7 linked regions of the Homo sapiens genome follow. The protein of the gene in region 5 purifies or fractionates together with the protein of the main gene of each other region. This does not show direct contact. Each region holds a gene or a part of one and is shown on either strand. Other genes may lie near its edges. The genes, in order: DNAJC10, PFKP, FAR1, TLCD3A, MAPK4, SFXN4 and HKDC1.

Evidence for each region.
Region 1: the proteins of MAPK4 (region 5) and DNAJC10 purify together in Homo sapiens (affinity purification with mass spectrometry; one large-scale study listed by BioGRID and IntAct). This does not show direct contact.
Region 2: the proteins of MAPK4 (region 5) and PFKP purify together in Homo sapiens (affinity purification with mass spectrometry; 2 studies listed by BioGRID and IntAct, with this or other methods). This does not show direct contact.
Region 3: the proteins of MAPK4 (region 5) and FAR1 purify together in Homo sapiens (affinity purification with mass spectrometry; one large-scale study listed by BioGRID and IntAct). This does not show direct contact.
Region 4: the proteins of MAPK4 (region 5) and TLCD3A purify together in Homo sapiens (affinity purification with mass spectrometry; one large-scale study listed by BioGRID and IntAct). This does not show direct contact.
Region 6: the proteins of MAPK4 (region 5) and SFXN4 purify together in Homo sapiens (affinity purification with mass spectrometry; one large-scale study listed by BioGRID and IntAct). This does not show direct contact.
Region 7: the proteins of MAPK4 (region 5) and HKDC1 purify together in Homo sapiens (affinity purification with mass spectrometry; one large-scale study listed by BioGRID and IntAct). This does not show direct contact.

Annotation. Positions count from the first base shown.
Region 1 is NC_000002.12:182,714,861-182,719,056, forward strand, and holds the start of DNAJC10 (dnaJ homolog subfamily C member 10 isoform 1 precursor), read left to right. Parts: upstream 1-1,396; 5' UTR 1,397-1,623; intron 1,624-1,830; coding exon of another isoform or gene 1,831-1,904; exon of another isoform or gene 1,905-1,937; intron 1,938-2,155; 5' UTR 2,156-2,212; intron 2,213-3,080; 5' UTR 3,081-3,226; coding exon 3,227-3,430; intron 3,431-4,196. UniProt on the Homo sapiens protein: Endoplasmic reticulum disulfide reductase involved both in the correct folding of proteins and degradation of misfolded proteins.
Region 2 is NC_000010.11:3,070,548-3,074,047, reverse strand, and holds part of PFKP (ATP-dependent 6-phosphofructokinase, platelet type), read right to left. Parts: intron 1-3,500. UniProt on the Homo sapiens protein: Catalyzes the phosphorylation of D-fructose 6-phosphate to fructose 1,6-bisphosphate by ATP, the first committing step of glycolysis.
Region 3 is NC_000011.10:13,667,300-13,671,467, reverse strand, and holds the start of FAR1 (fatty acyl-CoA reductase 1), read right to left. Parts: upstream 2,801-4,168; 5' UTR 2,662-2,800; intron 1-2,661. UniProt on the Homo sapiens protein: Catalyzes the reduction of saturated and unsaturated C16 or C18 fatty acyl-CoA to fatty alcohols. It plays an essential role in the production of ether lipids/plasmalogens which synthesis requires fatty alcohols.
Region 4 is NC_000017.11:739,096-742,595, forward strand, and holds part of TLCD3A (TLC domain-containing protein 3A), read left to right. Parts: intron 1-1,409; coding exon 1,410-1,505; intron 1,506-2,205; coding exon 2,206-2,475; 3' UTR 2,476-3,500.
Region 5 is NC_000018.10:50,661,087-50,664,586, reverse strand, and holds part of MAPK4 (mitogen-activated protein kinase 4), read right to left. Parts: intron 1,681-3,500; exon of another isoform or gene 1,499-1,680; 5' UTR 629-1,498; coding exon 83-628; intron 1-82. UniProt on the Homo sapiens protein: Atypical MAPK protein. Phosphorylates microtubule-associated protein 2 (MAP2) and MAPKAPK5.
Region 6 is NC_000010.11:119,152,215-119,155,714, forward strand, and holds part of SFXN4 (sideroflexin-4), read right to left. Parts: intron 2,964-3,500; coding exon 2,848-2,963; intron 1-2,847. UniProt on the Homo sapiens protein: Mitochondrial amino-acid transporter. Does not act as a serine transporter: not able to mediate transport of serine into mitochondria.
Region 7 is NC_000010.11:69,265,332-69,268,052, reverse strand, and holds the end of HKDC1 (hexokinase HKDC1), read right to left. Parts: intron 2,469-2,721; coding exon 2,235-2,468; intron 1,444-2,234; coding exon 1,296-1,443; 3' UTR 501-1,295; downstream 1-500. UniProt on the Homo sapiens protein: Catalyzes the phosphorylation of hexose to hexose 6-phosphate, although at very low level compared to other hexokinases. Has low glucose phosphorylating activity compared to other hexokinases. Involved in glucose homeostasis and hepatic lipid accumulation.

The sequences.
Region 1 (4,196 bases), on a different chromosome or scaffold from region 5:
CCACCTCTTAAAGCATTTACCCTATTTGTCTAACATTCTCCTGTTCTTTCTCCAGTTTTGTATGCTTTGCATCCTCTCTCCAATAGCTGCCAGGATGATCTAAAATACAATCTCAGTCTCTTTTTTAAAAGCTTCCTCATCACCTAAGAGATAGAAATCTATGTCTTCATCTTGGTATAAAAACCTGTCTGTGATCTGGTCCCTGCTTCATCTTCCAGTTTTCTGTTTGTTTTTCAATTTACTTTAAGATTTTGTTACAGTGTGTAACAAAATGGTTACACACTGTGTCATAATGCTTAACATCATAGTCTCTGAAGCCAGGTTGCTTAGATGTGAATCCTAGCTCTCAAATATTTGCCTCAGTTTCCTCAAATGGGAAATAGATATAGGAGCCACTATCTTGTAAGATTATTTGGAGGACTAAATGAGTTACTACATGTGTGCTTAGACCAGTTCCTGAGACATATTAACTACTATTACATCAGGCTGCTTCTAATGTTTGCCTTTGTTCATTCTACTTCCTCTTCTTTCCTACCAAGTATTAGCTTAGCCATAGATCCTGTGTAGTTTTCCAAGTTTTTAGAAGCTGACACTTGATTTACTCCCCGAAACTGTTACCAATCACAACTTATTTCATGTTAGGGTTGATGTTATAAGCAGGTATCCTCTAGGCTCGGTTTTCTCTTTTAAATATAGAAAATGTAGTAAATATAACCACTTCAATTGTTATATTGCTGTGGGACAAAATGCAGTTCCTGTACCATAGCAGTAGGAGATCAAGGTAAGAGAGAACAACGATAACTCCCCAGTTTCTAGCTTGTATGACTCAGAATCCAGAAAATATTGTAGAAGTCTCAAATGCTTGTTGATACACACGCTTACACAAAATTGTAAATGTTTTAATTTCCTTCAAGTTTCCTACTGCCTCTTCAGTCCGCTAGCCTGATACTGCAATCAGTGTCGCTTCAGGCAACTTCTCCTTTCTCCGCCAAATTTCGCCTTTCGGTCTCACCCACCCATCACCCAGACAAATCCTCCAAAGCTCCGTCTTCCCTTTAAAAGACTCTCAGGGAACTCAACCCCAAAACCCACCCTCTGGGTTTCCCCGTCACCCTGGCAACGGAAGCAGGAAGAGGCGGGCTTCGCCATCCACCCTCCCCGCCCGCGGCAGGCGCCGGCCGCATTGGTGAGGGGGCGCGGGCTGCTTGGCCAGGGCAGTTCCCTCAGCTCCGGGTTGGAGCCGGAGCCGGAGCCGGATCCCGCGCACACCGCCACGTCAACCTAAACCTACACCGCCCTCTCCACCCCACCGCCGCAGCGCCCGCTGGGCCCGCAGCGGGTCTCCCCAGGCAGCGTCCTCCACGCCTTTCCCACAATGCTCCGCGCCAGGCCCCGCCCCGGCTCGCCGTGGAGACCGGCGCGTGAGGAACCTACCGGTACCGGCCGCGCGCTGGTAGTCGCCGGTGTGGCTGCACCTCACCAATCCCGTGCGCCGCGGCTGGGCCGTCGGAGAGTGCGTGTGCTTCTCTCCTGCACGCGGTGCTTGGGCTCGGCCAGGCGGGGTCCGCCGCCAGGGTTTGAGGATGGGGGAGTAGCTACAGGAAGCGACCCCGCGATGGCAAGGTGGGCATGGGCCCGGGGCTAGGGCTTTGCTGGAGCCGGTGGTGGCCTGGGCCCTCCGGTCAGGGAGGGGCGGAATGGCTGAGCGCCTGAACCTCCCTTCCTGTGCGCTCTTAAGACCTGGATATTGTGTTCTCGCTCCCCACCTTCCTCCTCCCTGTTATTCACACCACCCTTCCTCTGCCCAGCGATTCCCTCTCAGTTACTTACACTTTCTCCCTAAGTCCGACCTGAGACTTCAGACACCAGCAACACTTAACAGCCCTGTTCCCCCGTGTCTTCATCTTTACCCCTCTCCCCTCTCCCACTCTGCAGTGATGGCAATGCGAAAGCTTGCGCCTTGCATTTACCTGGCGCTTCCACCTGCCCGGTAGCTCGGGCCACGGGCAGTTCGGCCACACCCACGCTGAGAACAACCCCTGGGCGAGAAACATCTTATCCCAAAGTGTTGATTGAGACTATGCCCTCTCTTTTTCTGATGGTTGTTTTCTTGTTTGGATACTTGTTAATCTCTACATCATTATATTTTTCAAAGGTATATTTTTGTGGAATGAAAAGGAAGTATTAGAAATGAGCTGAAGACCATTCACAGGTAAAGAGAAAAATTTTTAAATATACATTTAGGATTAAATGAAAAACAGAAATGAGGTGCGAGGAGCGTTAGATTTTTCAAAGCATTACGATCTCTTTGGAACTAAAATATAGTGGTTGAAATGTGATATGATGAAGTAATGATTGTTTTTGCCCTGCAGAGAGTATGTCTAAATAACCGATTCCCTTCTCTTTTTGTGTTTTGTTTCTACTTACACCAAACATGAACTTTGCAATAAAATTACACTGGTAACTTACAATTGTTTTTCTACTATTTTTAAAAAATGGCCTCTACTTAAATTCAGTATAAGCACCTTCTGAGGAAACTCCGGGAAGAAGATCGACTGCTGTGTAGATTGTCTATTATAACAATATATTTCACTGTCATTTCTGGTAGGGTTATATGAGAAGTAAAAAACCCTATGTTTCCTTCTAGTCCCTCCCAAGGACATTTCCTACAAGTGAATTCTGCTGAAAATGAAAATTAGACAGCTTTAGGAGGTAAAGAAGTAGCTAAAAGGAAGAGGTATTACAGGCAACGCTATAACTGGGTAGAAAGAGGAAGCACCTGTAGCTCATTGCCACCTTTGTGTTCTGATGCTCGTCAGAGGTCTTTTCTCAGTGTATAAATTGCTGAGGGTGTGTGTGCAAGCTACTTACTACCACTCATGACCTTTTTTCTGCTATCTTCAGTGATTTCACAAATCTAGCTACATGGATGTAGAAAGAGTGAAAAATAGAACCTGGGGCATTCACACTGATTTGCCATTTAATGGAGATTGTATTGCTGACCATGTTCTGTGATAAATAAATTGTGCTATTATTGTTTAGTTCAAAATGTATTTTAACTGCCTGCTTTTCTTTCTTAGATTAATATTTTTGGGGACAGATTTGTGATGCTTGATTCACCCTTGAAGTAATGTAGACAGAAGTTCTCAAATTTGCATATTACATCAACTGGAACCAGCAGTGAATCTTAATGTTCACTTAAATCAGAACTTGCATAAGAAAGAGAATGGGAGTCTGGTTAAATAAAGATGACTATATCAGAGACTTGAAAAGGATCATTCTCTGTTTTCTGATAGTGTATATGGCCATTTTAGTGGGCACAGATCAGGATTTTTACAGTTTACTTGGAGTGTCCAAAACTGCAAGCAGTAGAGAAATAAGACAAGCTTTCAAGAAATTGGCATTGAAGTTACATCCTGATAAAAACCCGGTAGGTAAACGTTTGTTTTTAAAAATATTTGATTATATTTTTGGTACATTTTGATATTTATTTAAATTGCTTTAAATGATCAAATGCTTAAGAATAATCATATGTCAAAATTATAATTCAACTTGTATGCTAGAAACAAAAGCACCAAAATGTTCTGGATTATTTAGGATCCCGTGAAGGAATGTCAGTACCAAAAATTCAGTTCCCTCTTAATTTGTAGACGATTTTCCAACAATTCTATTAAAGACATTAACCCCAAAACAAACGATAATATCCGTGAAGTAGTTGAAGTAGTTTTCTTATTAAAGTAGGTTAAGATCAAGTGTTTTAGAACAGGAACAAAAATATTTTTTTAAAACTCAGAGGGTATGACTTGCTAAAAATAGAAGTAATAGCTAATAATAGCATGTTTTAACTTTGACTGTTTTCTTCTGTGTATGCACAAGTCCACAAACCAGAGTTAGAAAGTTTTATAAATTAATACTTCACAGCAGCTGAATATAATGCCAGTCATAAATATTTATGTACACATTAATGTAAATCTTTCAAAACTAAACTCATTTTAATTTTTATGGTGTTTTTGTAATTTATTTGATTATTTCTTAGTGAGATTTAGCGTTCATCATTAACAAGAAGACATAGTTATAATTTTCTCTTTTCTAGGTAGAAGTTTTAAAATAGGATTATTTTCATTGCATAAAGCTGAGCAAGAGAAACAATATTTCTTTAAATATTGTTTAGTTGATTATCTTTTCCTAAGATCCAC
Region 2 (3,500 bases), on a different chromosome or scaffold from region 5:
ACCAACACGGTGAAACCCATCTCTACTAACGATACAAAAAAGATCAGGTGAGCATGGTGGCGCATGCCTGTAATCCCAGCTACTTGGGAGGCTGGGACAGGAAAATCGCTTGAACTCAGGAGGCGGAGGTTGCAGTGAGCCGACATCAAGCCACTGCACTCCAGGCTGGGCAAGAGGGCAAGATCCCGTCTCAAAAACAAACAAACAAACAAACAAAAAAAACACACACACACACAGAAATAAAATCTTAATCGTAGTAAGACACAGCTGAAAAGATATGAAGGACTGACTCCCCGAGGCTACTGCATGCCACCCTTTCAATCATTTTCCATTCAGGAAACTTCGGATCAGATCATTTACATATGTACGTTTAGACAAGGGGTCCTATATTAATGAATCTTCTCTGTCAAAATCCTGGTCAAAGTCAGAAAACAATCCCATGGGACTCCTGGGAGCATCTCACATTGGGGAAACCTGGAGAAGTGGAGAAGCTGATCTGCCCGATTTGCAAACCGCTCCACTGGCCCCAGGGGGTCCAGCAGCACCGGTGCCCTCCCCGTGAGAGTCGGAGCCTCACTCAGACCCACACAGTCAGGATCTACACCTCCGCAGGCTCCCCTAGGCATCTCTGGGCACACGGAGGCTGGGAAAATAGCACACGGGCCCTGGGGTTGGGGGTCCCAGCACAGTCCAGCCTATTCTCTTTTCCTCCTGAACACTTTCACTGTGGATATGTGTTAGGGAAGAGGGGAGGGAAGACAGAGACAGGGAGAGGAGACAGAGACTGAGTGATGCCTCCATTCTGCAGAGGAAAACATCAAGACCCTATCTCAGCACTCAGCACTCAGCACCCTGCTGACCCAGACAGCAGGACCAGGGCTAGGACCTATAAATGTCTCTGCCTCTCAGTGCTCTGGTCTGCCATGTGTCTGGCTGCCTCTTACATCCTGACAAGCACAATGACTGTAATTCCAAACACAGGACTGGGAGTTGGGGGTGAAGACGGAGAGAACCGAGGAGTGGGGAGGGAAACTGTAGCCTTTGGGCAGCTACTCTCTAATAAACAAAAACACAACACCAGAAAGGGCTTGTGGAAAAGAAACACAAAACGGAACCCAATTACTGACATACGGCCCTCTGTTCTATATTCACCCGCACTTTCTTAGCCGAAATGCCATTGTGAACGTGCAATCTGGTATCCTGATGTTTGTCCTGACTACGTTACCGTATCTTCACCTTTCTAATTTTAATTGCTTCTGATGGCCCATCAGATTGGTAGAGCCCTAATTATTTAAAGAGCCTAATTCTCCCTGATAAAAGGTTGGAGTCCTGTATCAAAAGCTTTTAGCTTTCTGTAACCAAGGGGGAAAACATGCTTCTTTCGAAAGATGACAAAATGTCTAGCTTCGAAGGGTCATTCGAGTATGGCACACAAAACGGTCTGCATTCACAGAAAATGATGCCATTACACAAATCTCCCACTGTGCCACATGGTGACACCATCATTCCAACACACTGCCTCCCAGACCCAGTAATTTTTGCAAAATTAATTACTGCACTTTACACTGAAAAGATCCCATCAAATAATGTATGTACACAGGAAGGTAACGGGCCCAGAGCCGTGGGAGGCAAAATGGCGCTGTTCTCAGTTTCCCCTTCCACCCTACTGGGCTCCGAAGCCAGCATTGCTTCAGACACCAAAGGTGCCCATGTGGGGCTCAAGCCTGGTGTCCAATAAATATGTGTGTCATTGACCTAATGCACGTCCAGCCAATGGAAACCTCACACTTCTGACTTCGGTTTTAAGGTTCTAATCTTGAAGTCTTAACAGTTTACACATATTGACCTGAGGATATTGGATACTTTTAATTAGAGAGGGTTGAATTCCTCTAAAGGACTTCATGGACGAAGAAGACAGCTAGAACCCCTGGTTTCCTGCTCCTCAGTGGAGATTCCAGGCAGGAGGCAGGCAGCAAACACTTGCATTCCTGCGAAGCGCCAGGCATGGTGCTGGGCGCGGGAAAGACACCAGTGAAGACGCAGGTACGCGCAGCCCTGAACATCCCTGCTGCAGCCACAGGGCCCGGCCCCACCACGGAGCTCTGTGAACTCAGGGAAGGTGGTGCAACTCAGGCGCCCCTTGCTCATGTGTAAAATAGGGATAAGTCATTGCCCAGGATCACTGAGGCCCTGCCACATAACAAAGAGTCATTAATGCTAGTTATTCTCACTAGGATTGGAAAGGTTTGTACTTACTCAATTTATGTGGACTTTCTATAAATACTGTATTGATATTCACCTCACCACAGGCAAAAAGGACGCAGCTTTCACATGCAGCCTACCCTAAGGATGCACCTGGACTTCCCAGTACACTCAGCTCCACCAGGCACCAGGACCTTCAGAAGCCACAACCTGTGACTAAGACAATGAGTCACTCTTGGTGTGTGGCACAGTGTTCTGTGGCAGTGGGGACTTAGTCATGGTAAGTCCGCCATTCAGAGTTATGGAGCTTATTTCAGATTGAGTGAAAATCAATTTAAGTTTCCAGACATGTCTTGGGACAACAGAAGATACATAAAGAGGCAGAAGAAGAGAAAGAAAAAAAAAAAAAAAAAAAAAACAGCCTGAGACAGAAGATATCCAAGCAAGTAGAAAAAACAAACAAACAAACAAACAAAAACAGCCTGAGAAATACTTTCTTCATTCAAGGCCCGGGGAGTCGGGAATATAGAAAAGAGAAAGAGATTTTCAATTGTATCTTATAATTAAATAATATACACTCTACTGAGAGAAGAAAAAGCAGCCCATCACATAATATCGTTCTTGCCACCTGGACTCCTATCACTATAAAAAGGCATTTTCCGTTCCCCTAACAAAGCCACCCAAAGAATATCTGTGTAATTTTGGGCAAATCGGGTTTTGCTCACTTTTGAGCATTAACTAGATAAAGCAGCTTCACCAAGAAAGGTCCCTGAAAAACATGGTGGAGATGGTGGAGGCCTGACACAATGGCTCATGTCTGTAGTCCCAGCTCTTTGGGAGGCCAAGGCAGGAGGATCACTACAGGAGGCCAGGAGTTCAAGGCCAGTCTCGGCAGCATAGTGAGATCCTGTCTCTACAAAAATAATAATAATAATAATAATAATAATTAGCTGGTCATGATGGTGCATTCCTGTCTTCCCAGCTACTCAGAAGGTTGAGGCAGGAGGATCACTTGAGCCCAGGAGTTTGAGGCTGCAGTGAGCTATGATGGCACCACTACACTCTGGCCTGGGTGACACAGCCAGACATAAGTACTCTTCGTGGTCTACGGGAGAGTACAATATTTGGAATTAAGATCTGTTTTGCTCCTATCACAATCACGTATGCACCTCATGCCCTTACCTAACTTACTTTTCTTTCTGAGTCTTTCTCCCCACTTCCAAAATGAGGACACGCCTCTCTTGGGATCATGTATTTAGGCTTGGAGATAAGAAGTGTAAAGCTCTTAGAATACAAAA
Region 3 (4,168 bases), on a different chromosome or scaffold from region 5:
ACCTATCTCCAATCCATTATCAACTGTTAATTTTCTCTCCTAACCAACATAAAAAATTATTTATCAGCTAAGCTGCAACATAGCCTTGGTTGATTTCCAAACCCCTAAATCTTCATTCGAATCTTCAATCATCCTTAAAAACCATTTTTAATTTGTCACTCTTGTCCACAGTTGCTTATACCAAGTACAAACTACTGGAATGTCATCCTCATGTCTTGTAATAACCCACATCCCAACTTCTAGTTCACATGATGGCTCAAAACTCACCTCTTTCAGGAAACCTTCCCTGATTCACTCCACGCCACTCAGATTACTTCTCTACTGCAAGTCGCCTCAGCACTTAGGTATTGTTATACTAAGGGCAAATGTGATCACAGTAAACAGCATCACTAAGAAATCGCTTTCACAAAATTGTTTCTAGATCATAAATAATGGTCCATTAGTTAAAATGCTTTGCTGATCTGGTTAACAAGCAAACATGTTACACAGCAAATGCTCTCTTTGGCTTCTGTCCTTGACTCTATAACTCTTCACAAACCTTTTGTCCTATCCTCAAACAGAAACTCTATCTCCCATTTAAATACACTGGAAATATGGTAGTGGGCCACCTTCTTTTCTACTACCTCTTCTCTGACCTCAGTCTCTGCCTCCAGCCTCTATCCACACCCCATAAATAAAAATTCCAAAAGCTTCAAATAGAATAGCAGTGATGCATACATACCATGTCTTTCCTGAGTGAAAAAAAAAAAAAAACCCTCAAGCTACTTAGCTACAAAATTCTTCACAAGGGTAATAAATTTCCCAACAAGCCTAATACATAATCAAACTCCAGAAAATTTATGTGGAATTTTTATGGATAAATTTATGGAATAATTTTGGCCGGCGCGGCAGCTAACGCCTGTAATCCCAGCACTTTGGGAGGCCGAGGCGGATGGATCTCTTGAAGTCAGGGGTTCGAGACCAGCCTGGCCAATATGGTGAAACCCCGCCTCTACTAAAAATACAAAAATTAGCCGGTGCGGTGGGGCATGTCTCTGTAGTCCCAACTACTCGAGAGGCTGAGGCAAGAGCTGATCACTTGAACCTGGGAGGTGGAGGTTGCAGCGAGCCAAGATCGCGTCACTGCACTCCAGCCTGGGCAACAAAGCGAGACACACACACACAAATTTATAAAATAAAAACAAAACAAAACAAAAATTATAAAATAATTTTATGGAAAATGTATGGAATAACAGGGCCTGGGTGGGGTGGCTCACCCCTGTAATCCCAAGCCTTTGAGAGGCCACGGTGGAAAGATCTCTTGGGCCGAGGAGTTTGAGGCTGGAACGAGCTATGATCTCGCCACTGCACTCCAGCCTGGGCGACAGCAAACCCTGTCTCTGTTTACTTTTTAAATTAATTTGAAAAAAATACATCAGGATTGTACTTATACGTTAATTCTCACTTGTATTACTGTAAGAGATCTTGCATCATTTTTATGCTATATTACACATGCCCAACATGACAGCTGAGAAACTCCCCTGGAGGGCAGATTTTCTGAGAGTATCTTCTGATGTTGTCTTTAAACCAACACTTTTTTTTTTAACATAAAGAATTAAGGGATTCCTGACTGCCATCTAGTCAAAAGCAAACAATATGTATGCCATTACTTCGGAGGGAGTGAGTTCTTGTGCTGCTGAGGCAAAACGAGATGAACTGTCACAGGGATGGCAGGAGGGGTGGAGTGTAGGAGGAGGATCAGCCCCAGTAGTGAGAATTAAAAACTCTTTTGAGTATTTGGCCCTCCACTAGCAGTAAATTAACCTTCAAACCTGACCAAGACACTACCTGAGACCCTCCACTCTCCGACACCGCAGAATCAGACAACTGTTCTTGCTCAACTACTCATAAAAGATTCACAGCCTTCACCTACCACACATAAATCTACCGCGTTTGCTGCTTGTATACTTTGTCCTAACAGACCAACTAATGCCTTCTAGTCCAATAGCCTCCCGTCCACACCTCACATAAAACCTTCTCAGCCACCTTCCGGTTTCAGTAGGTGCCTCTTACTCCAGATCCACGTGTCCCCAGTTCTCCAGAGACCTTCACCTTCAAAACCCAAGCCCGTCCCCCCTTCACTCCCAGCTGATCTCCACCCAGGCCCTATCAATCCTTACTTCTAATAGGCCAACCACACTCCCCGGCCCCGCGCCTTCTCCCTCAGCACCCTTTTCTGAGCATCACCTATTTCCCACCACTTTCTTCCTCCCCAGACCCGGAATCCTGCAATCACTAGGCCTCCCTTTGCCGCTACCCTCCCGCGAGCACGCGGAGCCCGCTGCTCGGCTAACCACCCCGCCCCACCTTCGCCACCTCTAGCGGCCTCCCACCCCAGGCGGCTCCCCGGGCTCCGCGGCTGCAAACCAGGCCCCACCGTACGTCCCCCACGCGGTCCCGGCCCTGTGAAGGGCGGCGGCGGGGCAAAGAGGGGCAGAGACCACCCGGGGTGAGGCGGGCGCCCTCACTTCTGGGCGTACCCGGGCGGGGGCGGGGGCGGGACGGCTGGTCGGCGCCCCCGCCTCGGCCAGGCCTGCAGCCCGAGCTCCCGCAACCACTTCCCGAGCCAGGCGAGGAGGAGCCCGCAGCCCGGCCGCTCCCGCTGGCGCACCCCCTTCTCACCTAGACGCAGAGGCTCAGGCCTCGCTCTCCCACTGGCCGTCCAGCAATAGCTGCGCCGCCGCCGCCGCCGCCGTCGCGCTCTCTTCACTCGCTTTTCCACCGCCCGCGACCGGCTGCTGAAGAGCGGACGGGCAGTGGCACGCCCATTGGCTGAGGCCCGCAGTCGCGTCAGCCGGCCCCGACCGCACCTCGCGACGTGACTGGCTGGAGCGGCGCCTCTTTTCGACATCCGCTTTTGATTGGCTCTCGCGCACACCCTTATCCGCAGGACCAGTCATCCTCCTCCCTGCTTTAGCCTCTCACCCCCAACCCGGTTTCCCTCCGGGCGGGAGTGGGGCGGGAGCGGACGCCCGCGGAACGCGAACGGCCAATGGGGGCGCGGAGAGAGGGCCGGGAGGTGGGCCCTGCGGCCGGGAGGCTCGCGGGGGAATGCTCAGCCAATGGGCCCGCGCCCCACATCTCGAGTCCTGGAGCGCCCCCGCCGGCTGCTGGCGTCCTGTCGGGTCGCGCCCAGGGCCACGCCCGGCTGTCCGTCGCGCGGGAGGGGCGCCAACTCCCAAGGTTGGGAGCACGCAGCGAGGCCCGCGCGGGAGACAGCGGGGCTGCCATTGTGGCGTGCTTAGCGCTATTATGGTGGGGCCCGGGGGCCCTCCGGCCATTGCTGGGCGTGAGGGATCCGTTCGGAGAACTACCAGCTTGGCGGGTGTGGCCCGGGTCGGTGAGAGCGAAGAGCTCTACGGACCCCTGGAGCCTCCACGGGTCTCGCCCAGTCCCAGGGGACTGTGGGCCCATTCATTCCACCTTCCACTTCCTCCAAAATAATTCCCTACAAAACTTACCGGTAGTGATAGGAGTTAGAATAACGTTTACTTCTGAGGGGTGGGGCACGAGGGAACCTATGGAAAGCTGGAAACATTGCGTCTTGATCCTGGTGGTCGTTCCGGGCTGTGTACACATGGAGGAATTCATCGAGCCGGACACTTAATAGTATTACCACATTCATACGGCTCATTTTTAAAAAATAATAAAAGGATCATGAGAATTCTGTAATAATATTACCACAATCTTTGGGCTCCGTGGGACTCCATTGTATAAACAGTCCGCATTAGGATTTAGCTGTCATTCAAAACATGCAAGCCATAGGAAGAAAAAAAAAGATTTGTGAGAAGCAAAAATGAGTGAACGCTCTTGGCACGGTGAATAGCATGCACAGGTTGGTATTTAGGGATGGATGGCTCAGAGTGATTTTTCTGTGGGGATTTAGAGCTTGTTTCAGTGCCTGGCCCTGTTAGTAGCTAAAAGCAGTCATAGTGCTGCATCCAGTTGGAAACTACAAAAGCTCACTGAACTGCCTACTTTGTGGCAGATGTTAAGTTCTGGCTCAGGAAACTAATTTGAATGCCATGGCTTCTGCCTCGATGAGCTCACAGTCTTGCAGCAAGTACTGTCATTTCTGGAGGAGGGCACAGAACACAAAGCTAACACACTTGCTTACCCTCAGGGATGT
Region 4 (3,500 bases), on a different chromosome or scaffold from region 5:
CACCCAACAAAGAAAAGCAATGGGAAAGCTGAGGGGAAATTCCTCACTCTTGAGTGCCTGGCCAGGGGAAGGCATGCGTTTTTTTTTTTAATTATTCATTTATTTAGTTATTCATTTTTTTGAGATGGCGTTTTGCTCTTGTTGCCCAGGCTGGAGTGCAATGGCTCACTGCAACCTCTGCCTCCCGGGTTCAAGTGATTCTCCTGCCTCAGCCTTCCAAGCAGCTGGGTTTACAGATGCACGCCACCATGCCTGGCTAATTTTTATATTTTTATTAGAGACGGGGTTTCACCATATTGGTCAGGCTGATTTCAAACTCCTGACCTCAGGTGATCCACCTGCCTCAGCCTCCCAAAGTGCTGGGATTACAGGCGTGAGCCACTGCTCTTGGCCGGCATGTAGTTTTATTTTATTTTTTAAATAAAGAGATGGGGGTCTCCTTATGAGGCCCAGGCTGATCTTGAACTCCTGGGCTCAAGGGATCCTCCCGTCTCAGCCTCCCAAAGTGCTGGGATTATAGGCGTGAGCCACCGCGCCCTGCCAGGCATGTGATTTAAAAGTTCATAGCTTGCTAAATATTAGAAGCTATTAGTCTTATGCTGTAGATGAAGAAACTGGGGCTCTAAGAGTATTCTTATATCTCTCAGTGGTACTAAGTGGCAGAGCTGATATTTTACCATGCTTACTGCTTTCTTGAAAAAAGAGGCCGGGCGAGGTGGCTCATGCCTGTAATCCCAGTCAGAAGTTCGAGACCAGCCTGGCCAACATGGTGAAACCCCATCTCTACTAAAAATACAAAAATTAGCCGGGTGTGATGCTGTACATCTGTAGTTCCAGGTACTCAGGAGCCTGAGGCAGGAGAGTCATTTGAACCCGGGAGGCAGAGGTTGCAGTGAGCTGAGATCACGCCATTGCTCTCCAGCCTGGGCAACAAGAACAAAACTCCGTCTCAAAAAATAAAAATAAAATAAATAAATAAGGGTAACGTGCATTAAATTCTTTAAGAAGTGTCTGGGACCTACCATCTAGGAACCAGAACATCTAGGGTGCTTTGAGACCCTAACATCTAGCACAGGGCCTGGCACATTTTGTTGAACCAAACAGGCTGAGTGTCTTGGCATGACTAAGTTCGATACACAAAAGTAGGCTTGCAGCCTTCCTTCCGGCTGTCATCAAAATTCAGAGCTTGGTGTGGGACGCCGTCATCCTGTCTGAATTTGCCTCTGGATCCTAGGGCTTGGACCATCAAAGTGCTGTTGCCACGGAAGCAGCGGTACAGTAGTCTGCGCTTGCCTATTGAGCGTCCTTTGCCCGTCACAGTTACCCTTTTCAGTAGCCCTCGTTGGAATTTTCCTTCTGGTGGTTTCTTAACCTCCACTTACTTCCCCTTTTCGTTTCGTCATCCGCAGAGGCTCCGGGGAGACCTTGGGGACTTCTTTGTCGGCTGCATCTTCACGGCAGAACTGAGCACTCCGTTTGTGTCGCTGGGCAGGGTTCTGATTCAGGCATGTATGAATGAAATGACAGAGAGTGTGAGGGTTCTGATTCAGGCATGTATGAATGAAATGACAGAGAGAGTGAGGGTTCTGATTCAGGCATGTATGAATGAATGGCAGAGAGAGTGAAGGTTCTGATTCAGGCATGTATGAATGAATGGCAGAGAGAGTGAGGGTTCTGATTCAGGCATGCATGAATGAAATGGCAGAAAGAGTGTGGGAGGGAGTGGATTCTGCTTTTCCTTCGGAGATGGTGGGTGTGGAGAAATCCCTAGTGCCAGGAGAGTGGGATGAGAGATCCTTCAACAGCCTTAAAGGTCAGCTGGTCATCTCAGCCAGTGGGGGTGAAATTGTAGGTTTGATCTAAGTTTGATAGTTTGATACAGCTCATTCTATTTTTTCCCTGGTTACACACATACTTTAATCCACGGTTCCTGTACTCCTGTCAGCTGGGTGGCCTGGGTCAAATTCAAAATCACTATTGGAGAAAATGAGGTTATTTGCACATCTCAATATGATAGTGTTCAAGAATGTCTTCTCCAAGTGTTAGAAAACTAGACAAACGTCTGGGCGCCAGGGAATCTGACAGCCAAGGTCTTGATGAGCACCTGCACCTGTGTGGCATTTACTGTGGTGGGACTTGGGCCCGTCGCTCCCTGATGCCCAGCTTCTTGGTGACCTTACCTTTTTCCTTCCTCTTCTATTGCAGCTAAAGCAGCAGCACACCCTTCTGTACAAGGTGAATGGAATCCTCACGCTGGCCACCTTCCTTTCCTGCCGGATCCTTCTCTTCCCCTTCATGTACTGGTCCTATGGCCGCCAGCAGGGACTAAGCCTGCTCCAAGTACCCTTCAGCATCCCATTCTACTGCAACGTGGCCAATGCCTTCCTCGTAGCTCCTCAGATCTACTGGTTCTGTCTGCTGTGCAGGAAGGCAGTCCGGCTCTTTGACACTCCCCAAGCCAAAAAGGATGGCTAAATGCTCCTGGGAGTCAGGCGCAGCCTCACACCAGCTGCCTCCTCCACTCAGCATTCCATGGACCAAATTGTGCCCTGGGTAGCCTCAGACTTTGGGTATTGATAAGCCGATGGATTTGAGTTTTTCTAAAGAATATTCATATTACCTCCTTCTTCTAACTTGCCCTATTTGCAAAAGCACTTTTGTAGTAACAACTATTGGGTCCTGTCAGACCTCCACGGACAGCAAAGTGGTTTTAATGCAAGCCCAAGGATCCTTCTTAAGGTCTTATCTCAAGAGCTCTGGGAGGTGGAAGCATGGGGTGGGATCGGTGGACCAGGGTGGTAAGTGTCTGCACATCTGCCTGTCCCTGTATCAGCGGCTACCCACCTTCCAAACCACTCAGGACAGTACCCGTGGCACTGGGCCCGCAGAAGCAAGGGATGACTTGGTTCTTGGAAGTAATGTCGTCTTGTGACATTGGCCTGGGACAATCATTGTGGGTAGGTAGTTATTGATCGTTTACTAGATAACCCATTGGTTCTTTGCCTCATCCTCTCATCCATGGGTCAGAGTTGAATTCTTATGTCTATAGACTTCCAATCAGAAGTCTCACTGGTGGGGCTGGGGGTGGGGGCAGGCAGGAGGCATGGATGGGAACCTGAGTAGGTAGTGTGGCCAAGAGATCAGCACAACCTTTGCAGGCTGACTTGCTAAGTCTGACAGTGACAAACTTGTGAGCTTACTGCAGTCAGTCACAGAGGCTGTTCTTTTTCACACACCCCTTCATGCCCGGCTTTCCCCATATCCACATGCAGAGGGCGAGCTCATAAAACTACAGGGAAGCGTGAAATGATGGCTTTGGTAGCTGTTTACTGGGTAACCCCACTGTGACACTGTCCTTTTCATGTGATGTGGAAACCTACTTCTGTCCTCCAAACCATGAAATGTGTCATCTAGACTGCAGAGTACTTGAGTGCTTTGCCTCCCGATATGCCAGAGCTTGTGGTCCAAAGCCCATTCCTGTGTGTCCGTCCTGCCATTTA
Region 5 (3,500 bases):
AGCTAGGAATAGCTTGGGAATGCTGCAAGTATTCTTGGGGATTCTGTGGACCACCAGTATCCGCCATTCCAGCCAGACATACCTTGTGGGAGTAATGCTGATCAACGATCCTTGCCAACCCGAAATCCCCAATCTTGAGCACGAGGTCCTCTGTGCTGATGAAGATGTTGGCGGGCTTCAGGTCCCTGTGCAGCACGTTGGCGGAGTGGATGTACTTGAGCCCGCGGAGCAGCTGGTACATGAACAGCTTGGCATGCTCTTCTGCCAGCGTGCCCTGCTCCAGCAGGCGTGCCAGGTCGGTCTCCATGTACTCCTGGACGATGTACGCCACGCTGAACTTGAACAGCTCACCCTGCAGGTCAGTGCCCTTGGGACCGAGCACCTCGTACACTTTGACGATGTTGTCGTGGTCCAGGCGCCGAATGATCTTGATCTCTCGGAGCGCGTGCTTCATGCTGCGGGCATCGCTCAGGGCAATCTTCTTCACAGCGACCTTCCGGCAGGCCCGGCTGTCCACGGCCGACAGCACCAAACCATTGACACCGAAGCCCAGGGGTTGGAAGTCAACAAAGCGCCCACCGAGGTCATACCCATAGACACTGGCGATGCAGTCACCCTTCTCAGCCATTGTGGGCTCAGTGATCTGGAGCTGCCCAGGTAACACAGGGGCAGTCAGGAAAGGCCAAGTCTCGGCTAGCGGCCTCCCTCGCGCACCTCATTCTGTCAAGTCCCACGGCTGAGGGATGTGTTTTCTCCTAGTGAGGTCACTGCCACCAGCTCTCTGGAGACGAGAATGGCATATGGTCATGCTCGCTGAGCTGTGCTAGTTGGGGGCGCAGGCTGTCGTCTTAACCTGCATTGGGAGGGCTGTCTACTAATTCCTGTGTTTCCTGAACCCTTCTTAAAGCTTAGAATGGCTCATATTTCTTTTAAAGCTGGCATCTTGGAAAGAAAACCCAGTATCATTATCTATGGAATGTCAAGTTTTCTACCATAGTGGACTGCAAAGTAAAAGATGCAGAAACTCTCCCCTTTGAATACTTTGTTACAAGAGGCTCTTTCTGGCTGAAATGCAAGAGTTGTTTGCTGAGCTGAGCTCCTTAAGATGCTCCAAAGCTCAGCTGTGTCACAGCCTCTTTCTGTGTTCCAAGCAGTATGCAGGGATCCCATCAATGAATTCTGGAGGCATCCAGGGGCTTCTTTCTACCTCTCCTGTTTCTACCAGCTCACCTTAGATTCCAAAACCTGAGCCAGTCTGGTAAGCACTGGTGAAAAAAGCTGGAGAAACACAAGCACCTTTCATGAGCTCTACACCAAGTTACGCCTGAGGTTCCAAATGCAGGGGAGCTCAGCTGCCAGGCCAGGATCCTCTGGAGCCTTTGGATGTGGGCAGCATCCTCTTTCACCAGCTCATCCACGCCACCTCGCCCAAGACTGTATTCCACTGCACCAAGAGAGGCTGCAGGAATGTGGCATCTTTCAGACCAAGTCTCCTTCCCTGTCAAAGAAATAACGTTGGGTAAATTTCCACACTCCGGCTTCCAACACCTTCCCACTTGCGTCTTTTGTTAACCAGCCCAAGTGTTATTTGATCTGTCCAGCCAGCTGAAACACTGCTTGCTCAGGGGATTCCGGGGCTTTGCACTGCCCAGCCACCCTCCTGCTGTGCGTAGCACTCCCCTGGAAGAGACAGAAGATGGATTGATTTGATAAGACCATCAGATGCTGTGCCTCTTATGTCAGTGCCTGCTCCCCCAAGTTTAACATGTGCAAATTACGGTGGAGAATTATCCCTTCTGACCTTCGGAAAATTAATTTGTTTTATGCTCTCCAAACACACACATCAGCGCTAGCTAGGAAGGGTGAGAGTAGAAAGCAATGAGTTGCAGACAGAAAACAAAGGATCGATACTCGTGTTTTTGCACTTGGGTTCCTTTTCTTCCTTCTTTTACAAATGTCTTTGAACATTTTAAGAGGCTTTCACAGGGACTAAGATGTAATGACATTTGTATCTCTTGCTTTCCACGTAAGTTGAAGAAGCCCATGTACCAAATTACAAGGAAATAATGTTGCCACCTATAATAAAAGGACTCTCTTTGCCCAGAAACCAGGGTGCAGAGTTCCCAGTGCTATATCAAAACTGGCATGGTGAGCTGTATTCTTTTTGACAATGTGACCTCGCTCTTCAAAGCAATGGGTCAAATCTAAACTTCACTGTCCCTGCCCTCTGGTGGCTGTTGACTCAAATTACAGGTATAGGAACTAAGTGGGGAGGAAAAACCCTGCAAAACTAGACATGTAAATTCAGATCTCTGAAGTAAGGTAATATCATAGCGTCTAAGAGACTGGCAGGTTTTCTAAGTTCATAAAGACCACAGACACACAAAGAAAGAAGACTGTATCCAACACAAAGGCATGAACTTGGCAGACTGCTGCTTTATTCTCATATCGCAGGGCCTCCTATAGAGACACTTTGCTATCTGAACTTCGCACAACTCTGCAAAGATAAATGAAGCAAAAACGATAGTCAACTCAATGCTCTGAAATTAAGGGGGCAAATTAGGGGACACAGATGATCTGAAATAGTAAACAATCAGATCGCCTGTAAAGACTTCTAATGAAGGAAATTTGCCAAGGGTCTAGAACATAGTAATTGCTTAACAGATGTTACCTATTGTTGCTGTTTAGTTAAACATTCCCTTACATTTGAATAAGATGTACTCAAGATTCTGATAATTTGTCAGATCTTCGGTAATTCTGTTCTGCATGTTTTTACTGGGTCCAGGAACAAAACAACCATAGACTTACAGAATTTCAGATTGGGAAGAAATCTAAGAAAACAAGGCCCGTGGTCCTTATCTGGAGATGGTACTGCCCTCCTCACCTTATTTGACTGGGAGTCATTACTGGTATTTAATGGGTAGGGCCGGATTTGCTAACCATTCTACCGAGCATTCCCACCTCCATGCCCAAATGCCCAGAGCACATCCACTGACATCCACCCCTCCACCCCTGAATGCCAACAGCACTTCCACTGAGAAACATCGATTCTGATTCCAGTTCTAACTTTACAGGTGAGGATACCAAGGCTTGGAGAGCACCAGCTTAGTGCTTTCAGCATACATAGGGTCAATATCCATCTGATGAATGGATAAATGAATACCATTCACTCTGTTTGAGGATGCCCAGCCACTAAGAGACAGTGCTGGGAGCACCCAGTGAACCAGATTCTATGGCCTGTGCTAGCGAAGTTGGCCTGGATACCTAACTCAGGGGAATCAAAGAGCCTCCACAGCTCTCCATTCTCTCCCTCCTTGACTCCTGCTGCCCAAGTCATGTAATGGCAACTACACTGAAGCTTCTCTTTCTCCCCACAAGCCTGGTCTGACTCCCAAGGGCATAGCAAAAAGAGGCAATTGCATATCATTATTTTTTTTAGGAAGAGACATGCTTAAGCCTTCTTCCTTTCCAGCTTCTGCTGGGTTGTAAACAGAGAGAGG
Region 6 (3,500 bases), on a different chromosome or scaffold from region 5:
ATGTCTCTTTCGGGCGTTTTTTTTTTTCCCCAGGGGAAAGCGCAAATGCAGTCCCAGGTGGTTTTTGTTTGTTTGTTATTTTTGAGATGGGGTCTTGTTCTGTCGCCCAGGCTGGAGTGCAATGGCACGACTTCGGCTCACTGCAACCTCCACCTCTCAGGTTCAGGCAATTCTCCTGCCTCAGCCTCCCGAGTAGCTGGGATTACAGGCACCCGCCACCATGCCCAGCTAATTTTTGCCTTTTTAGTAGACACAGGGTTTCACCATGTTGGCCAGGCTGGTCTCGAACTCCTGACCGACTGCAAGTGATCCAACTTACGGGTGGTTTGTTAGGCCCAGAACCTTCATTTCAAACTAGTGACCTATTTTCTTACTGGCAGCAATTTCTCTGTTACTTATAATTATTTTATCTCTGTCATAATTCATTTAGGTAAGGAGCTATGCTACTAGATGGTCTAGTGGAAATACCATTAGCATGTATCTGATAGTTTATAATTCAGCTTTGTCAGTCAGTGATAGGATTTAAAGTAATATGTTTGGTGAGCTGAATAATGACGTATTTACCGATGGAATGAACAACCATCTTTTCTGAGCTTCCCTGCCACCAACATGCTGGTCAGTAGAAGGACATACCCTGGCTGGCTAAGGGAGTCCTCTGGATCCCACACTGCCAGAAGCCCGGTTAGTCCCTTCACTTCATATCAGGGCTGTTCCACTCTGCTTGATATGTCATTTGCAAACAACTAAAGTCTTCAGCTAAAGTCATTTCACAGGGACCAAAAAAGATCTCACCTGCTAAAAACATATTATTTTAAAAGTCCACACCCAAAATGAAAAGACCATAGACTATACCAGGTTCTCACGGCTGAATGCACTCAGTAGTCACTGTGTTGAACTGAACAAAAGAATACTTTGGCCAGGCCCAGTGGCTCACCCCTGCAATCCCAGCACTTTGGGAGGCCAAGGTGGGCAGATCACTTGAGCTCAGGAGTTTGAGACACGACTGGGCAACATGGCGAAACCCCATGTCTATAAAAAGCACAAGCATGAGCCAGGCATGGTGGTGCATATTTAGAATCCCAGCTACTTGGAAGGCTGAGGTGAGAGAATCACCTGAGCCTGGGAGGTTGAGGCTGTAGAGCCGTGATCACACCATTGCACTCCAGCGACAGAAGGAGACCCTGTCTCAAAAAAAAAAAAAAGAAAGAAAAGAAAAAGAAAGAAGAAGAAAAAGAAGAAACTAATAGTAAAAATTATTCAGAATTGAGGCCTTGAAAAGGAGTTTTGGATCAGAGAATTCAATGTTCTAAGTCCATTCTTGACAAAAGTAGTCCTTAGCAATGAAGACTATAAGGACATCTGCTGAATGGGAGAAGCAGGGGCTCTTTTAACCCCAGAAAGGGGTGTCCACTGACCTCTGTAAGTGCAGAGCAGGCTGGGAGGGGAGTGGCCCCCAATCAGCACACACTGGGAGGGCAGATATTGGATTTGAAGAATAGGATCTCACTCTCAGAGGTACCCAGCACTTGTCAGATGCCTGTCTGTGGCAGTCAGCCTCACGGGTCACCATGGCAACAGTACCCAGTTATTTAATCCAGCACTCATCTAGCTGTTGCTGTAGGGGTACTCTGCAGACACAGGGCACGTCTGCAATCAGCTCACTTTAAGAAAAGCAGGTTACCACCAGGCGCGGTGGCTCACACCTGTAATCCCCGTACGTTGGGAGGCCGAGGCGGGCGGAACACCTGAGGTCAGGAGTTTGAGACCAGCCTGGCCAATACGGTGAAACCCCACCTCTACTAAAAATACAAAAATTGGCTGGGCGTGGTGGTACGCACCTGTAATCCCAGCTACTCAGGAGGCTGAGGGAGGAGAATCGCTTGAACCCAGGAAGCGGAGGTTGCAGTGAGCTGAGATCACGCCATTGCACTCCAGCCTGGGTGACAGGGCAAGACTCCGTCTCAAAAAAAAAAAAAAAGAAAAGAAGGTTACCCTCCACAATGTGGGTGGGCCTCATCCAATCAGTTAGAGGCCTTATAGGCAAAAACTGAGGTTTCCCAAAGAAGAAATTCTGTCTCAAGGCTGTAGCAGCAGCTCCTGTCCAAGTTTCCAGCCTCCAGGCCTGCCCTGCAGATTCCCACAATTGTGTAAGCCAATTCCTTAGAACAAATCTCCTAATAGACATGTACTGCCCAGGTGCGGTGGTGCACACCTGTAATCCCAGCACTTTGGGAGGCCACGGTGGGAGGATCACTTGAACTCAGGAGTGAATGGGAGGGACAATGGAGACAGAGGTGCATGCTTTTCTTTTGAGAGATTTCAAAAAGGAATTGGGGGCCAGGCATGGTGGCTCATGCCTGTAATCCTAGCACTTTGGGAGACCGAGGTGGGTGGATCACTTGAGGCCAGGAGTTCGAGACCAGCCTGGCCAACATGGTGAAACCCCGTCTCTATTAAAAATACAAAAATAAGCCAGGTGCAGTGGTGTGTGCCTGTGGTCCCAGCTACTTGAGAGGCTGAGGTGGGAGGACCGCTTGTGTTAGGGAGGCAGAGGTTGCAGTGAGCCAAGACTGCACCATTGCACTCCAGGCCAGTGCGACAGAGCAAGACCCTGTCTCAGAAAGAAAGATTATGTACATATATCCCATTGGTTCTGTTTCTCCAGAGAACCCAGACTAATGCCCCATCTTATCAGGGGGCAAAATGAGAAATTTCTCTCTCAGCATGCTAAGGAAAGACGGGTAAAGAAAGGTTGAAGGCAGACATGAATTTGTCACCGGCTTTCAAACAGAAAAGTCTAGTCGTTGCCCAAAAGGCAAGCAGCTATAGCTTCATCCTGTCTCTTACCTTTGTCCCAGCAATTCTGGAATGACCCAGGACATTGCCTTCCTTGTCCATGACCGCAATCCCCTTAATGGATTCAAGACTTCGGGACATGTAGACATTCATTCCACTGGCTTGCACTGTAGATGTAAAGAAGTAAAGAACACCCAAGACGGGGGTGAGTCTTGTTCCAGCAAAGGAACATCTCTTTGGGTGTCTGCCCCCTGCAAGCCTCTTTCTCTGACAGCTGGCCTTTCTTGACCCTCAGGTGGACACCTGCCATAGGCTGGGCCAACCAAGTGCTCTCCTGGGGCTGTGGAAGTAGGCTAAGAACTGCTGGCCACTCAGTCTTGGATCCTGACCACAGCCTGGGACCAGCTTCCAGCACCCCTGCTTCCTTACCGGATTCTAGGAGAAACCCTGGGATCTTGGAAACATATTCCTCCCTCGTCTTTGCTTAAGTTTTTTTTTTCAGACAGAGTTTCACTCTTGTTGCCCAGGCTGGAGTGCAATGGTGTGATCTCAGCTCACTGCAACCTCCGCCTCCCGGGTTCAAGCAATTCTCCTGCCTCAGCCTCCAGAGTAGCTGGCATTACAGGCATGCCCCACCACGCCCGGCTAATTTTTGTATTTTTAGTAGAGACGGGGTTTCATCATGTTGGTCAGGCTGGTCTCAA
Region 7 (2,721 bases), on a different chromosome or scaffold from region 5:
CAAGAATGTGTTTGACAAAGAGTTTACAATCTATCTGGCCAGATGTGAAACTCATACAGATAACTATGTGGCAGAACAGAAAGGCACAGGCAGTTCAGGTAAAGTGGGGAAGAGAGGAGAGAGAGAGGAAGTCCACTGGAGAAATGGTCAGGGACAGGCCTATTACACATAGTTCTGCAGGGTAGAATGGAGATCAGTGGGGTGTATGGGAGGAACCGAGCTCAGAAGTCAGAAGGACTTCCAGTCCACTCCAGCCGTTCAAAAGCAAGAGCTGTAGGATCATGTGGGAAATGCTCAGTTACTGGAAGTATTCTAAAGACATCTGGATAATCTGTTAAGGATATTGTAGAAGATATTCCATATATTACCCCTGTTGGTAGGAAGTTTGGACTCGAGAAAAATGCTCAAGCTCCTTCTGACTCTGCATCCCTTATTCCATCAACAAAGCATGGTATTACCAAGTGAGCCTCCCAGAAGAAATATCACCACTTCATGCAAAGTTTATTGGAAAATCAAAATTTTTTTATTAATTTACTGGATTTCCTATACCTAACAATCCTTAAAACAACTATCAACACCTGCAACACAAACCACAGGCAAAATGAAAAACAGATGCCCCAGACAGCACCCCACCACATGGCACACACTTAATAAGGAACAAAATCCTACAGGGTGCTGACATAACTCGCTTTAAGCATGCAATGATTCCTGCAGTGCTCCCTGGCAATCAACCTCTCTGCACCCTGGGGCTGGATACTTCAAAGTCTTTGTTCTCTTAATAGGTTTGAAGTCAACATGGCAAGTTAAGGACAAGTTAGATGAGATCCCCCTAGTTCATAACGTGAGTTCCTCTTGCTCTCCAATGTTCATCCACAAGTACAGGGTCCAATCCCCTATAAGAGATGGCTTAAGCATCCCAATGGGGAAACAGCCTGCCAGCCACATGGGCAGATTCTATATATTTCCAAGTCCCGCAGCCACAAGACTGAAAGCCATAGAGAATTGACAGCTCAAGCCTCACCTGAACAATGTGTTGAAAGGGGATCTCTCAGGACAGACACTTTGATTTCATAAGTTGGCCCATTTTGGCCCAAATATACCAAATAGAGATGTCATGTAATGTCACTGCAAATCCAGTACAAGATACTAAGAGTACCCGAGAACCTGGGGTTCTCTTTCGGCCATCCAGAAGGTGAGGTCAGCCAGGAGGGTGCCCATTGGTCTCTGACCAACTGATCTGCCAGAGGAAAAGCTGTTCAGTATCCAAGATGCATCAGGTCCAATCCCAGGGGTTCCTAGTTCTCCTTCTGTGCCTGCTGTAACCTCTTGGCCACAGCAGTGATCAGTGCTGCCCCTTTTCCACTGCCATCTTCTGACAGCATGAATGTCACATCACATCGAGGGGCTAGTTCCTTCACAGTTTCCTGCAATATTCTAGAAAAGCTATGAAAAAGAGAAAGAAACATCATCAGCCCTTCCATGTAGAATCAGAACATTTATAAATGATCATAATCTAATTTCTTTAGCTTCTTCCCTTTGGTTTGCTTTTCAAGGCTCTAAACAGCTTCTTCTAATTTTTTTTTTTTTTTAGACATGGTCTCACTCTGTTGCCCAGGGTGTAGACTGCAGTTGTGCAATCACAGCCCACTGCAGCCTCGAGTTCCCAGGCTCAAGCCCCCCAGCTCAGCCTCCCATGTAGCTGGGACCACAGGTATGCACTATCACGCCCAGCTAATATTTGTAATTTTTGTTCATTTTGTATTTTATTTATTTATGTTTGTGGAAATGGAGTCTCCCTGTGTTGCCCAGGCTGGTCTCAAACTCCTGGGCTCAAGTGATCCTCCCGTCTGCCATTACAGGCATGAGCCACTGCACTCAGCCAACTTACATTTCTTGAGCCCCGTGTGAAGCACTTTACATGTGCTAACTCATTTCAACCTCACACATTTAGCCCTATGTGGTAGGGATTATTAGTGCTGGCCTTTTGTGGATGAGGAACCTGGGGTTTAGAGAGGCCGGCTAACATTCCCACATCGTATTACCAGGTAGCAGAGGCACCAGGGCTCACACCTTGTCTGTCAGATTGAATAGGTGACTTGACCACACAGCACTCCTTTCCCATAAAAGGACGGGGATGCATCTTCCCATGCCGCAGTTCAGGAGGCTATGCCAAGTCCACACTTGGCCGCCAGCCCTCCCCAGCCCCACCCGCCACGCCTCTTGTGGGCACTCACTGAGGGTGCAGCTTGTACAGGGTGCCGTCCACACCCACAGTGATCCTCAGGTGCTCTAGCCCCTGGTCTTCTCTCCTTTTTTCCACTATAGCGGCCAGGCCAGCACCGCAGAGCTGGGCCGCCCGCCGGGACACGGCTCCGCACACCTCCTTCACCACGATGCTGTCCTCACACGTGCTGTCCAGGCCCAGCTGCTGCAGAATCCTCCTGACCTGGAGAAGGGCCAGCCGATCGCTGCAGGCAATAGAGCAGGGAGTCAGGACCTGCTTCCCAGGACCCCGGGATGTGCCCAGTGTGACCCACAGCCTCCCCATTCTTAGATGCCCTTACAGGAGGGAGGAGAAATTGACCCAGGCAATGGCTAGGCTGGAGCAGAATGCCTTAGAAGCCGAGACTCAAGAAGGTCCACCACCCCTGGAAGTTCCATCAACTTTAAAAAATAAAGTGTGAATGCCTCTGGTGTTCAGCATGTTCATATCTGTGATCT